Homo sapiens: one gene and its partners. The protein of the gene in region 1 purifies or fractionates together with the protein of each later gene. This does not show direct contact. Each region holds a gene or a part of one and is shown in the gene's direction. Other genes may lie near its edges.

Region 1 (3,500 bases):
GATGTCTTCAGGATCTGTAGTTATGTCTCTGGTTACCTTTTTGATAATTTGTTTCTTTTCTCTTTTGTTCCCATTAGTTTGGCTAGAGGATTGTCAGTTTTACTGATCTGTGCTTTTTTTTTTTTTTTTTTTTTTTTTTTTTTTTTTTTTTGAGGCAGGGTCTTGCTCTGTCTCCCAGGCTGGAGTGCAATGGCATGATCTCAGCTCGCTGCAGCCTTTGCCTCCTGGACACAAGCCTCAGCCTCCTGAGTAGCTGGGACCACAGGCACATGCCAACCACACCCGGCTAATTTTTTGTATTTTTGGTAGATATGGGGTTTCACCACGTTGCCCAGGGTGGCATTGAACTTCTAAGCTCAGATGATCTGCCTGCCTTGGCTTCCCAAAGTGCTGGGATTATAGGTGTGAGCCATTGCACCTGGACAGTTTTACTGCTCTTAAAGAACCAGGCTCTGGTTTCATTGATTTTTCTCTAACATTTTTCTGTTTTCTTTTTATTGCTTTCTGCTCTCATCTTTTTCATATCTTTTCTTCTACAAACTTTTTTTTTTTTTTTTTTTTTTTTTTTGAGATGGAGCCTTGCTCTGTCACCCAGGCTGGAATGCAGTGGCACAATCTCGGCTCACTGCAACCTCTGTCCCCAGGGTTCAAGCCATTCTCCTGCCTCAGCCTCCCCAGTAGCTGGGATTACAGGCATGCACCACCATGCCCAGCTCATTTTTGTATTTTTGGTAGAGACGGGGTTTCACCATGTTGGTCAGGCTGGTATCGAACTCCTGACCTCATTATCCGCCCGACTCTGCCTCCCAAAGTGCTGGGATTACAGGCATGAGCTACCGCGCCCGACCTCTACAAACTTTGGATTTAATTTGCTCCTCTTTACCTTCTTAGAGTGGAAGCTTATGTCATTGATGTGAGACTTTGTGTTTTTTCTGGCATTTAGTGCTGTAAGTTTTGTCTGAGCACTACTTCAGCTGTATCCCACAAATTTTGAAATTACATGTTTTCATTTTCATTCAGTACACATTTCCTGTTTGGTTTCTTTTTTCTTTTTTTGAGACGTTGTTTCACTCTCACCAAGGCTGAAGTGCAGTGTCACAAACTGCAGCCTTGACTTCCTGGGCTCCTGTAATCCTCTTACCTCAGCCTCCCTTAGTAGCTGGGACTACAGGTGCATATCACCATGCCCGGCTAGTTTTTTTAGTTTTTGTAGAGACGGGGTCTCACCAGGAGTTCAAAACTCACCAGGCTGGTCTTGAACTCTTGGCCTCAAGTGATCCTCCCACCTCCGACTCCCAAAGAGCTGGGATTACACGCGTGAGCCACCTTGTCCAGCCTGATTTTGTCTTTTGACTCCTGACTCATTTAGAAGTGTGTTGCTTAGATTCCAAAAACAATTTTGGGGTTTTTAAGATACTTTTTGAGAGTTTCTAATTTAATTTTATTGTGATTGGAGAACATACTTTGCATAATTTCAGTTCTTTTCAGTTTATTGAGGCTTGTTCCATGGCCGAGAATGTGGTATACAGGAACTTAGGTTTGTAAGAAACTACTAAACTGGCTGTGCTATTTAGCACTCTCACTAACACTATGTAAATACTCTAGTTTCTGGAATACTTGCCAGCACTGTTATTGTCTTTTTTAAAACAAAAACAAAAACAAAAACTTTATTGTAGTTGATGTGTAGTGATACCTAATTTGGGCTTTAGTTTACATTATTGATTTTTATTCTTGTTAAAATCAATTTGAATAAAACTTACAAATCGTGGATTTTTTTTTTCCAGTAGATGACAAAATGTGCTGAGGGATTGGTAATAGTTCATCATTTGTATGCTGCGTAAGTGCTACTTTTCAGTTTTCTTTTTTTTTTTTTTTTTTTTTTGAGACGGAGTCTCACTCTGTCGCCTAGGCTGGAGTGCAGTGGTGCAGTCTTGGCTCACTGCAACCTCTGCCTCCTGGGTTCAAGCGATTCTCCTGCCTCAGCCTCCCTAGTAGCTGGGATTACAGGCACCCACCACCACGCCTGGCTAATTTCTGTATTTTTAGTAGAGTGAGGTTTCACCATGTTGGTCAGGCTGGTCTGGAACTGCCGACCTTGTGATCCGCCCACCTCTGCCTCCCAGAGTGCTGGGATTACAGGTGTGAGCCACTGCGCCCGGCTAATTTTCAGTTTTCTAAGAGTTTGAATGTTTGTTTGCTTTTTAGTATTTACTTTTTTTTTTTTTTGAGACAGAGTCTTGCTCTGTCACCCAGGCTGGAGTGCAGTTGCGCGATCTCGGCTCACTGCAACCTCCGCCTCCCAGGTTCAAGCGATTCTCCTGCCTTGAGTAGCTGGGATTACAGGCATGCCACCATGGCCAGCTAATTTTTGTATTTTTAGTAGAGATGGGGTTTCACCATGTTGGTCAGGCTGTTCTTGAACTCCTACCTCGTGATCCACCCACCTCATCCTCCCAAAGTGCTGGGATGACTGGCGTGAGCCACCGTGCCTGGCCAATATTTACTTGTTTTTTGTTTTTTTTGGTTTTGTTTTTTTTTTTGAAATGGAGTCTTGCTGTGTTGCCCAGGCTGGAGGTGCAGTGGTGCGATCTCGGCTCACTGGAAGCTCCACCTCCCTGGTTCACACCATTCTCCTGCCTCAGCCTCCTGAGTAGCTGGGACTACAGGTACCCACCACCATGCCCAGCTAATTTTTTTGCATTTTTAGTAGAGACGGTTTCACCGTGGGAGCCAGGATGGTCTTGATCTCCTGACCTTGTGATCCGCCCACCTCAGCCTCCCAAAGTGCTGGGATTACAGGCGTGAGCCACCGCGCCTGGCCCTATATCTACTTTTAAAGAGGATTTGTAAGAGCTTCATGAGGATTTTAGTTACTTGTGGCTTTTGAGTAGATGGGTATAAGGTGATTTAAATTGTATACTACAGTGTCTTTAGTGAAATATATATAACATGAAATTTACTGTTTTAACCATTTTTGAGTGCACAGTTCTGTGGCATCAAATAAATTAACTTTGTTGTCCAGCCATCACCACCCTTCATCTCCAGAACTTTTTCATCTTTCTAAACTGAAACTCCATACCCATTAAGCAGTAACTTCCTGTTGCTGTCTTTCTCCATCCCTTGGTAACCACCATTCTGCTTTCTGTCTTTATGAATTTGACTACTCTAGGTACCTTATATACATGAAATCATATAATGTTTGCCCTTTGTGACTGGCGATTTCCCTAAGCATAAATAGTCTTCAGAGTTCATTCACATTGTACTGTCAGAATTTCCTTCCTTTTTAAGGCTGAATAATATTTTATGTATGTATCACATTTTGTTTATTCGTCCATTGATGGATATTTAGTTTGCTTCCACTTTTTGACTATTGTGATTAATGCTGCTGTGAACATGGATATACAAATATCTGTTTGACTTTCTGCTTTCAATTCTTGTGGGTGTATACCCAGAAGTGGAATTGCTGGATAATGTGGTAATTGTATTTTCAGTTTCCTTGA
Region 2 (3,500 bases), on another chromosome or scaffold:
GCCTTGCGGGGCGAGAAGGACCCCAAGAGCGGCTTCGACATAAAAGTACCACGCCGCGCCGTGGGACCCTCCAGCACTCAGGTTCTCGTCCCTTGAGCCCCGCCTGCACCCTCTCCCTGGGGGGACCCACCCTGAGCTGTGAGCGGGTGGGGCTGGTGAGGCCCGGGTTAAATGAGGTCCTCGCTGCCTGCTCAGGCAGAGAAAGTGGCGCCTGTGGTTTCTGCTGCTCCTCTGTTTCCCACCCAAGTGAGTTGGGAGCGTGAGGAGACGTGCCTTGATTGTCAGATGTGTCATGTGCACTAAAAAGGAGTCTGACTCCATTTCAACTCCCATCCCAAAAATGTGGGCACAAGTCCACGTGTCTGTATTCATTCTGTGTTTCTTGATGGGTGTTTGAATGTCTGTATAATTTTTACGTTGGGTCTGCAAATGACTGTAGATGGGGCGTGGGAAACTGTGAGGTGCTGCTTGCGTGTGTCATGGTCCTAAGCTGCCCACTGTCCTCTCTCCTGGTGTGTTCAGGCCTCCCCGAGGTGCTTCTCACGACTTTCACACCCGGTTTAATCCACACCGCTGCGTCTGTCCTCCGTCCTGGGGCTGGTCTTCTCCCTCATCTCTGCCGGAGGCTTTTAATCTCTTCTGCCACTCTTCTGGAAAGTCACCAGCAATGCACGCTGCTGGCTCTGCAGGAGGGTCAGGGGGACGGCCCTCGGCCTGTGCGTGGTGCCAGCCACCCTCCCTGCCTCCCTCTGCGTGCGTCCCGTGTCCCTGCCTGGGGTGTGTGTGTCGAGTGACTAACGTCTCTCTCCTGCCTCTCCCTCCTGTCTGTCCGTGTCTAGCTCTACCTGGTGCGCACCATGGCCGAGTCCTTGGGCTCTGCCGAGCTGCTCAGGCAGCTCAAGTCTCTGGGCATGGAGAGGCTCTTGCATGCGGTTAACACGTTTCTGAGGCAGTCGTGCACCTACCTACCCCTTTTAACCTTTGGTGGTAAGACATCATTTGTTTCTCTTGACGTTTATGGCACGGAGGCGAACTGCTCCGCTACAAGTTGTTCTTTCCCCAAAGCAGCAGCAACGTGGCCGCGTAGACAGGCACCCGGACCCCTCGGGGAGCTGGTGCGGGGCCCTCCCGACCAGGGCGTAGCGGAGCAGTCCTTCTCTCATGGGCTTTTTGAGTTTGGCATAACTAATGTACCATGTATATTTTCTCCCCCACAAATGTTTCCTTGGATAATCCAGCTTTACATGGTGAGAACCATGCTAGAGTCCCTCATTGCAGACAAAAGTGGTTCCAAGAAAACCTTGAGAAGTAGCCTTGAGGGGCCCACCATATTGGACATAGAAAAATTTCATCGAGAGTCATTCTTCTACACTCACTTGATAAATTTCAGTGGTAAGAGATACTGCTGAGCAGCATCCGGCCTGGCATGTCCTAACACCACTAACACCGTCTAGAATGCTTCCGCCCGCCTGACCACCCCCTACCCCGTCCCTTGGTGCACCCAGACGGTGACTCGTCCTGCCCTCTGTGGCGGTGGCTGTACGTCCCTGGCCTGAGCTCGCTCCACAGGGCGTGGTCCCTACAAGGGTATAAACTGAGGAGCCCGGGCTGGCCCTGAGACATGAACAGAAAATCTTTTCAACCCATGCGGGGTTGGAAACAGGCGAATGTAATCTGGTGCCTGAGTTGAGACACAGGCATTGATAAATACTAGAAATGGCCCTTGCAGACCATGACGTGGGGGGAAGGTGGCGGGTGCCCTGTGCCAGGCAAGCCCATCCTGGGTGACACCCGGCCACCTTGACCGGCCACCGGTGGGTGCGCTCTCTGCCCTCCGTGTGTCTGTCCCGTGTTCTCATCAAGTCCTCCGTTGTCCACCTCTTGCTCAGAACAGGATCCCTGCTGTCTTGGCTGGGGTGCTGCGAGGTATTGGAGGAAATAGTACCACTTTTGCTGTTAACTCCATGAAAGGATGGAGTTCGAGTGTGGGCTCTTTTAATCTGTCTCATTTTTGCGTTAGACAGACCTCCCTGAGTGTGCCTCTAATGCTGCAGCCTGGACATTGGTTTTTATCCTAAGTGAAAGTGAAGAAGTCCTGTTTTTTTGTTTTGTTTTTTGTTGAGACGAAGTCTTGCTCTGTCACCCAGGCTAGAGTACAGTGGGGCGATCTCAGCTCACTGCAAGCTCCGCCTCCCAGGTTCAAGAGATTCTCCTCCCTCAGCCTCCCAAGTAGCTGGGATTATAGGTGCTCACCACTGCGCCTGGCTAATTTTTGTATTTTTAGTAGAGATGGGGTTTTACCATGTTGGCCAGGCTGGTCTCAAACTCCTGACCTTGTGATCCACCCGCCTCGGCCTCCCAAAGTGCTAGGATTACAGGCGTGAGCCACTGTGCCCAGCCAGAAGTCCTGTTTTTATGTCTCCTTTTGAGAAGAACATTTTTAGGTAAGACACAGTGGCTCATACCTGTTAATCCTAACACTTTGGGAAGCCAAGGCAGGAGAATCACTTGAATTCGGGAGTTTGAGACCAGCCTGGGCAACATGGCGAGACCCCCATCTCTATAAAAAATACAAAATCAGTTGGTGGCACGTGCCTGTGTTCTCAGCTACTTGGGAGGCTGAGGCAGGAGGATCGCTTGAGCCCAGGAGTTGAAGGCTGCAGTAAGCTATGATCGCGCCACTCACCTCCAGCCTGGGTGACAGAGTGAGATAGACTCTGTCTCAAAAAAAAAAAAAAGACACTTTCCCCCTGGATCCCACTGAAGGGCTCACAGGGTTGATGAGGTGGCTTTACCTGCAGCTATGCCCAGCTGGTCCTGTCCCTAGTGCAAGGCCCCGGTGACCCCTCCCCACTCATGTCCATGCTGCATGGCTTGGGGCTGAGCGAGGAGGAGCAGGCACCCAGCACACAGCCCTTGTGTCATCTCTGCTAAAGGTTTTTTTTTGCTTGCGGGAGATAACATGGAGTTGTTTGAACCCTCCCAGAAACGCTGCAGCAGTGCTGTGACCTTTCGCAGCTGTGGTTCCGAGAGTTCTTCCTGGAGCTGACCATGGGCAGGAGGATCCAGTTCCCCATTGAGATGTCGATGCCCTGGATCCTGACGGACCACATCCTGGAGACCAAGGAGGCATCGATGATGGAGTGCGTGTCCTGCGGGCCTGTCTCCAGCCTTTGTGTGTGGTGACCGGGGGTCCTCAGAGGAGGTGGCGGAGAGGCCGGGACTGTTTTTAGTATTGTATTTGAAATCAAGTTTCTGGGCCTGGGCAAAATAGCAAGACCCCAGTCTCTACAAAAATGAGAAAACTTAGCCTGGTGTGGTGGCTGATGCGGGAGGATTGCTTTACCACAGAAATTTGTGGCTGCATTGAGCTATGGATTGCACCACTGCATTCCAGCCTGGCCACGTAGCAAGACCCTGTCTCCAAATAAAAAAAAAAAAAAGAGAAATCATGTTTCCTGGGGTAAAGCTTTAGAGATTAATACAAGTAACTAACCAGT
Region 3 (3,500 bases), on another chromosome or scaffold:
TTTTTTGAGGGAAGTTGGTCTCTGTGACCAGTAAACCCAGCCCCAAGTTTACCGGCCGAAGGAAGGGAAAGTTAAGAGTGATAGGGCATGAAGTGAAAGGCTTCAGGTGGGAAGTGCTCTTAAGTAGCACAAGAGAGGTGGGTGGAACCTGAGTAGGTAGGGAGAAGTGGGAGGGAACAAGCCAAGCAGAAGCCCAGGGCCATTCTCACATTTCAACACGTAGAGTTAAGGAAGGGCCTCTTCCTCTGTGAGAATTCAGCATTTTGCAACCATCCAAAAATGTTGAGGGCATGCTTTGCTTCCAGGGCAGACAGAGCAGCACAGTGAGCATGGGACACAGGATCCCTGACTTGCTGTGTGCCCTTAAACCAGCCACTACCTCTCTGACGTTCAAAATTGAGCAATGGAAGGCAGCCTGCCCAACTGTTACCTGCCTGTCATCATGAAAGCCTGCGGATGAGGTAATGTCTGTAAATCCCAGTCTGAGAAAAAAAAGCCGTGGAAATAGAGAAGGAGCCTCCTGAATGTGTGACTCTTTTGGGTAAATGCCCTCCATTCCTTAAGAAACAATTTATTAATTATATATTGTGTGTCACTTTAAGAAGATGGATCTGTGGCCTCTCTGTACTGTTGAGCCAATGGGAAGCTTAAAGGCACTTTGTGATTCACAGATTCTGTCAAGGCCCCTGGATGGCCTTGTCTGTACAAAGACACTTCAGAATTCAGTCAGTGGGTATGGGACGCCTCCCAGGATGCAAAGAGCTTAGATATTGGCTTTCTAGCCATGGGCATTATGCTAAGGGCTGTGTGTGATGTACCTCAAAAAATAGCCATTTAAGCCATACTTGGGCCCTGGCAACAGAGGGTGCAAATTCTTGAAAGAAATTGTTTTGAGAAGGCAGAGCTTGAGTTCAGGCAGAATTTCTTGCAGGGATCATTCTGGTTGCGTGGCATTTTGATAGACTTTGGGCAACTCAGATACAGGCAGTGAGAGAGGGAAGTAAATAGGACCTTCTTGCGAGATGCCTGAGAAAGACCCAGTGATGACTTCATCAGTAGACCTTTTGATTCTGTTTGCGTCATTATTTGGTCATTGTAGAGCAATGGTTCTTAGGCTTTAATCTCTAGGTAAAACAGAGGTGTGTTTAGTCTGTCCATGTTCTCTGTTTTCTAAGTAAGGCAGGAGGTGAGGTCCTCTGCAGGAAATAAAGGTGATGGACTGGTTAGGAAACTTCAGGAGACTTCAGGGTTTGGAACAGTTGCCTATGTGGGTGGAATAAGAAATAAACTGGGGAAGAATGAGAGAATTGTCTAACTTCACTGAAGGCCTGGCTGAGATCAAAGAGAATTTGCAGGGCTGACCCTCAGAGAAGACATGCAGTAACTCTTAAGGAATATCCGAGAACTATTTTTGATTTGTGCTTTTAAAATATGATGCTTTAAGATTTGTTTTGGCAAGATATGAATGGCAAGATAAGAATTCAGAACTAGAGGTCAGCCCCCTATCTCCAAGTCTGTTATACTTCCATATGGGAAAGAGAAATGAGGACCTGCTTCTTAGGGTTTGAAGTGGAAACTATACGACAGAAGGATTTTCTAAAGAACTCTCCTCAGATTCTTATATTGACAAGGCAGCCTTGGATATGGGACCTTAGAGAAGCATGATATTTTAACTTTCTTGTTAATTTTTTTAAACCAGAAGTTAAGAATTTTGGTCATTGGCTCATGCAGTCAACAAATCATTCATGAAGTATTAATTAAGCAAGTAATTCCTGGTGTGTGCCTATCTCTGTGCTGGTTGCTATGGGTCAAACTCAGATAAGATGACTATCCTTGGCATTCTTAGCAATCCAAAGAATTAGTGAAATATAAAGCAGTTTGTCGTGCAGTTAAAAACTGTGGACTCTAGACTGTGAGTGCTAAGGGAGTGAGAGAAATAAAGGTCATTAAGGGGCTTGGCTGGTCAGACCTTTGTGGAAAAGGCATGTCTTCGTGTGGGCCATGATAGATCGGTAAGATTTGAGAAGGGAAGAAGACAGTCCATAAGGGAGTGGAGACAGTTTGAGCAAAGGCACAAAGGAAGAGTATCCTTGGACAGGTTTATTATGCCCTGTATACCTTGGCCACAGAGAATGGTCTGCATGATCCTTAACACATGTCTTTAAGGAAGCCCTTTGGATGGAATGTCTCAACTGTAGTCATGGTCATTTGCTTTAGTGTTGGGAGGGTCCTGAGAGAGGCCCAAATCCAGTGATTCTTAACTGGTTGCTGTTGTGGTTTTTTTAGTACACAAAATGGACAATGTTGACATGCTGAACACATCAGCCCCCACAGCCAACCCCCCAACTCTGCTCCATTCCTGCCACTCAAGGGAAGAGATGAACATGCAAGCAATAATATCACACAGAGATCTTGAACCCTCGCCTCACATACAATAAAATGTACCTTGTTTGCAAACCTCAGTGCTTAAGCTATTATTAGCACAAGTTACCCGCAATAACCTTCACAAGGCAGGTTTGGACATCATGGTTGAGAGAGAACCAAGGCTAACCTCCACATTTTACAGACAGAGAAATTTGCCCTTTTAGAGTGAGTGAAAATGTGATTTGGGGGCCTTTGTCTTCATACTGAGCCATGTTCGAGTTGTGGTTTCACATCGATGGAGCTGAGTTCCACGTGCTCCGATCTGGTGGCCAGACCTGAAGCCCTCCTCTTTGTTTCCGTAGCAGATGCATGGCTTCCCTTGTGAGTTTTAGCAGGTGCATCTGAGAGGCAGCTCCTCTCCCCACATACGCGTCATGTTGGTGTTCCTCATATGACAGCCCCAGGGCCCCAGCAGGAGCAAATCAGCAAGCCACCTTGGTGGCATGACTTCCCCTCCTGAGAGCATGAGGCCGTTCCCCTGAGCTGCTGGTAGCCTGGTTTGGTGTCACCACAAAGGCCACCTCAACCTTAACAACACAGGAAGCAGCTGGGCAAAATGGCAAACGAAGGGGAAAGTCCTTTAGCCCCCACCAAGATCTTTTTCTCTGTCTACTCAGTCTACTCATAAACAACGAGGAGGATAGGCCTTCTCCAGTGGCCCAAGTCGAGGCTGACTTGATTTCTCGGCTCTGACTGCAGGTCCCCTGTGTGGAGAGAAGCTGTAGGTGATAGGGCCTCTGGTCCCGGAGGACAGGAGCAGGGGACTGAAACAACAAAGACCACCTTGCCAGTCAGTGCTGGGTACCGGCCAGGTGTCTGAACTGCTAACAAGGAGACTTTGGGTGGTTGTCTTCTAAAGCAAATTATTAAATTTTGATCAAAACGATATATACAAATGTTTTAAAAAATCAAATAGTATTGAAAGCCTTATAATGAAAAACAACCATCCAGCACCCACCCTCCCCTAGAGGCTGCCACTTTTAACTCACTGTTTCTTCTAGTAGCTGCCTCCAGATCTCTAAATGATATGCTTACACTGCTGTTTCTCGATTTATCTATTCTGCACGTTGTCTATT
Region 4 (3,500 bases), on another chromosome or scaffold:
AAAAAATTTAAATGTTGCAGTAAAAGTGTGTCATATCAATACTTAAATTAAGAAAAATAAAACCCATCTTCCTGTAGGTTGGAGGCTGCCGTGTCTGATGGTGGATACTTCTGCTATTCAAAAGGGAACTCTCCCATGACTCCCAAGCACCACTGATGCAAAATTTTCATTTCATGCTACACACTATATAGTTTTATTATGTCATTTAATCTCTGTGTTATAAATTAACACACTACAGGCCTCTCAGTTGCTCACGCAGTCACTGCCACAGTTCTGCCAGGCTTCTCCAACCCACCCGCACGGCCCAGAAGGGAGCTCGGAAAGCAGCTGGAACTATCAGGGTGATTAAAGGAGAAACCAGGGGACAGAGAGGAAGAGGCACTCCACCCAAAACATTTAAAGAGACAGCTTGCTTTTTTTAAAATTGCCAATTAGCCAGGTGCAAAACAAAAACCCATCATTTAGAAGGTGATACCTCTATTTTCACTTTTCTATTTGCAAAGAACTGGAAGTTCAACAAATAAATGCTCAAATCAAAACTAATCAAAAATTAAAACTGTTTTAGGAACTGCATAGACTTCTCCGAGCCCCAGGCCGATCCTGCTGTGTTTAACCAGCATGTACTGACTTGCTGTTTTGCATGAGGGGACTGACAAATTTGTTTATGCTGCACATTCATTATGCAGAAGCTGCAGATTTTGCTTTACATCATGTTTCCTAAAAACATTTTTAGACTCTGCTGTCATTCTGCAAGCTGATGTGGGTTGGGGGTGCGTACAGAGTGCTTGATGGTTTTTGGTGAAGCTCAATTTTGATCCCTACCCATAGTGTTTGCTTTCTGGTGAAAATAACTTGATGATGCCCAATCACCAATGCAGGGCCACCCTGATGATGGGGGGAGAGGAAGGGCCTGTAGTTAAGAGTACACAGTATGCTGGGTGCCTGACAGACACTCTTCTTCCCGCCCTTCAAGGGTGAGGAAATCAAGGCTCAGCGAGGTTAAGTTACTGGCCAAGGTCAACCATTTTACAAAGAACCGCTGCTCTTTTTTTCCATTCAGTCCATTCTTTCAATTAAAACCCAGTTTCTTTCTTTAAGGGGAAAAATAAAGTGAGGCGAGTGAAGACCATTTATGACTGCCAGGCAGACAACGATGACGAGCTCACATTCATCGAGGGAGAAGTGATTATCGTCACAGGGGAAGAGGACCAGGAGTGGTGGGTACGTACGAATATCCATCCACTTCATCCGTACATTCATACAGCATGCCTGGGCAGGCACCACATTGGAGCCTACAGACAGTGCAGTAAAAGAGGGCTCTTGAGCACAAGGACCCTGTCAGCTGCATCACTCACCCAACAGCCATTGCATTTGGTGTCTTTTCTATGTCACACACTATTACATGCTAGAAAAACAGCCGTGGAGCTGGCCGGGCACAGTGGCTCACGCCTGTAATCCCAGCACTTTGGGAGGCTGAGGCGGATGGATCTCGAGGTCGGGAGTTCGAGACCAGCCTGGCCAGCATGGTGAAACCCCGTGTCTACTAAAAATACAAAAAATTAACTGGGCATGGTGGCACGCACCTGTAGTCCCAGCTACTCGGGAGGCCAAGGCAGGAGAATCGCTTGAACCCGGGAGGCACAGGTTGCAGTGAGATGAGATCACACCACTACACTCCAGCCTGGGCAACAGAGCGAGACTCCATCTGAAAAAAAAGAAAAACAGCCATGGGGCTTTGAAGACAGGTCAAGAGAATTAACATTTGTATGTACTTTACCCATGGTATCATGTAACCTTGTGAGTTGTAGGCATTTTCTGATTTTTCATATAAATACTAAAGCGGAAGAAAGTTGAGCATGTTGCCTGTGGTCCCTCAGCCAGTAAGCAGGCTAAGTCAAGATTCCAGATCGGCCCTGACCCCAGAGCCTATGTGCTTTGCTCACCATTCCACACTGTCCCCAGGCTGGGAATCAGAATGCCCAAGTTCCTGCTCAGGCTGAGCAGTTGACAAGTCCTCAGACTCAATTCTTAATCCAGTCTGCAGTTCTTTCTTTGTCAAATAGGCCAAGACACCTTCTCCACGTAATTTTAGGAAAAGATTAAATGAAAATATCTATGAAAACTCCTTTTACATTAAAACCTGCAGCTCAGGCATCAGGAGGGAAAGACATCAGCATCCTCATAGGCCCTGCTAGGTACCCAGGCTGTGAGTGACCTGCGAGGGCAGTCCACACATCTATTGGTTTTCACGTTGCCAGGGAGTAAGTCTCCCGATGGGAACTGCCAGGCCAAGGTACAGTGAATAAGCCACCTCTTCTGCTCTCCTTGTTGATCATTTCCTGACATCAGGGTGAAAATTCCCCTTCCTTGGCAGCCTGAGCCCCGTCCTGCCAAGAGGGACTCAGTTCTGTCTGCCAGGAAGGGACCTGAGGCTCGCAGTTGAGCCAGCAGTACCTAAGAATACCCAGAAATACATATGTATATACATGTGTGCACACACACATAGGCATGGGCACACATTCACCTTTGACTTTTCTTCCTTCAGGCCTAGACAGTGACCTCAGATTCTTAATCACAGCTGTAGGGATTTTGTTTGGACTCAACTGGGGCAATTTTGCCCTCCAGGGACATTTACAATATCTGGAAATATTGATTGTCAGGACCTAGGAAGGGGGTTGCTACCAACAACTAGTAGATGGAAGTTTAGTGGCCAGGGATGCCACTAAACATCCTCCAGTACTCAGGGAGCCCCCACAAGCAAGGATGCCAGTAGCACCATGGTTGAGAAACTGGACTGAAGGGATCAGCCTGGGGAGGCCCAGGGGTACCTCCAGCCTCTGTCAGCAGAGTGGGGCCAGCCCCTGGCATGAAGCCTGTCAGAGAGTCCACTTCATCTCATGACGAGGAGGTGGGCTCTGAAGCCCCCCCACGTGAATCAGTTACTAGCTCTATGGGCCTTGGATAAAGCATGTCCCTTCTGTAAGCCTCACTTTCCTCTGAAAAATAGGACATGATTAATCGTTTCTCACAAGGATGTTGAGGAACTCACTTTGTAATCTGTTAATATTATTATAATCAAGCAGTGATCATGTTCTTTGCTAAGCAACTGATGACTACAGCAGAGATACCTGCGGGGAATGGGAAGCTGTCATTGGTGTCCCTAGCATCATTCCTAGGGGACATTGTGTGTGCCACCATTACGTGCCTCGCCAGATGTAAAGATGGTGCCACACACACATGCTAACTGTGATGTGAAATTCACAAAGACCTCACACATGCATGATGCCAACTAAGACCACACGCGGTGGGTGGGCAAGCCTTCAGGAGAGCTGGGCAGGCCTGGTTGACTCTGTTCCACTCTTAAAACCACCTTCCTCTCTATCGATTTGGCATTGGAAGCCAATATGCACGATTTTGTTTTTTCTATTGAAGGCCCATTACATGATTCTCTTTAGTGCAATCAATACTAATCTAATTGAGGTAATTAGAAAATTTTTACA

The links. The genes of interacting proteins can lie anywhere in the genome.
Region 2: the proteins of ARHGAP12 (region 1) and CYFIP1 purify together in Homo sapiens (affinity purification with mass spectrometry; 2 studies listed by BioGRID and IntAct, with this or other methods). This does not show direct contact.
Region 3: the proteins of ARHGAP12 (region 1) and CYFIP2 purify together in Homo sapiens (affinity purification with mass spectrometry; one large-scale study listed by BioGRID and IntAct). This does not show direct contact.
Region 4: the proteins of ARHGAP12 (region 1) and ASAP1 purify together in Homo sapiens (co-immunoprecipitation; 3 studies listed by BioGRID and IntAct, with this or other methods). This does not show direct contact.

The regions. Positions count from the first base shown.
Region 1 is NC_000010.11:31,918,832-31,922,331, reverse strand, and holds part of ARHGAP12 (rho GTPase-activating protein 12), read left to right. Parts: intron 1-3,500. UniProt on the Homo sapiens protein: GTPase activator for the Rho-type GTPases by converting them to an inactive GDP-bound state.
Region 2 is NC_000015.10:22,914,369-22,917,868, reverse strand, and holds part of CYFIP1 (cytoplasmic FMR1-interacting protein 1), read left to right. Parts: coding exon 1-81; intron 82-555; exon of another isoform or gene 556-857; coding exon of another isoform or gene 858-1,238; coding exon 1,239-1,392; intron 1,393-2,986; coding exon 2,987-3,143; intron 3,144-3,500. UniProt on the Homo sapiens protein: Component of the CYFIP1-EIF4E-FMR1 complex which binds to the mRNA cap and mediates translational repression. In the CYFIP1-EIF4E-FMR1 complex this subunit is an adapter between EIF4E and FMR1.
Region 3 is NC_000005.10:157,269,123-157,272,622, forward strand, and holds part of CYFIP2 (cytoplasmic FMR1-interacting protein 2), read left to right. Parts: intron 1-201; exon of another isoform or gene 202-461; intron 462-3,500. UniProt on the Homo sapiens protein: Involved in T-cell adhesion and p53/TP53-dependent induction of apoptosis. Does not bind RNA. As component of the WAVE1 complex, required for BDNF-NTRK2 endocytic trafficking and signaling from early endosomes.
Region 4 is NC_000008.11:130,055,675-130,059,174, reverse strand, and holds part of ASAP1 (arf-GAP with SH3 domain, ANK repeat and PH domain-containing protein 1), read left to right. Parts: intron 1-1,098; coding exon 1,099-1,221; intron 1,222-3,500. UniProt on the Homo sapiens protein: Possesses phosphatidylinositol 4,5-bisphosphate-dependent GTPase-activating protein activity for ARF1 (ADP ribosylation factor 1) and ARF5 and a lesser activity towards ARF6.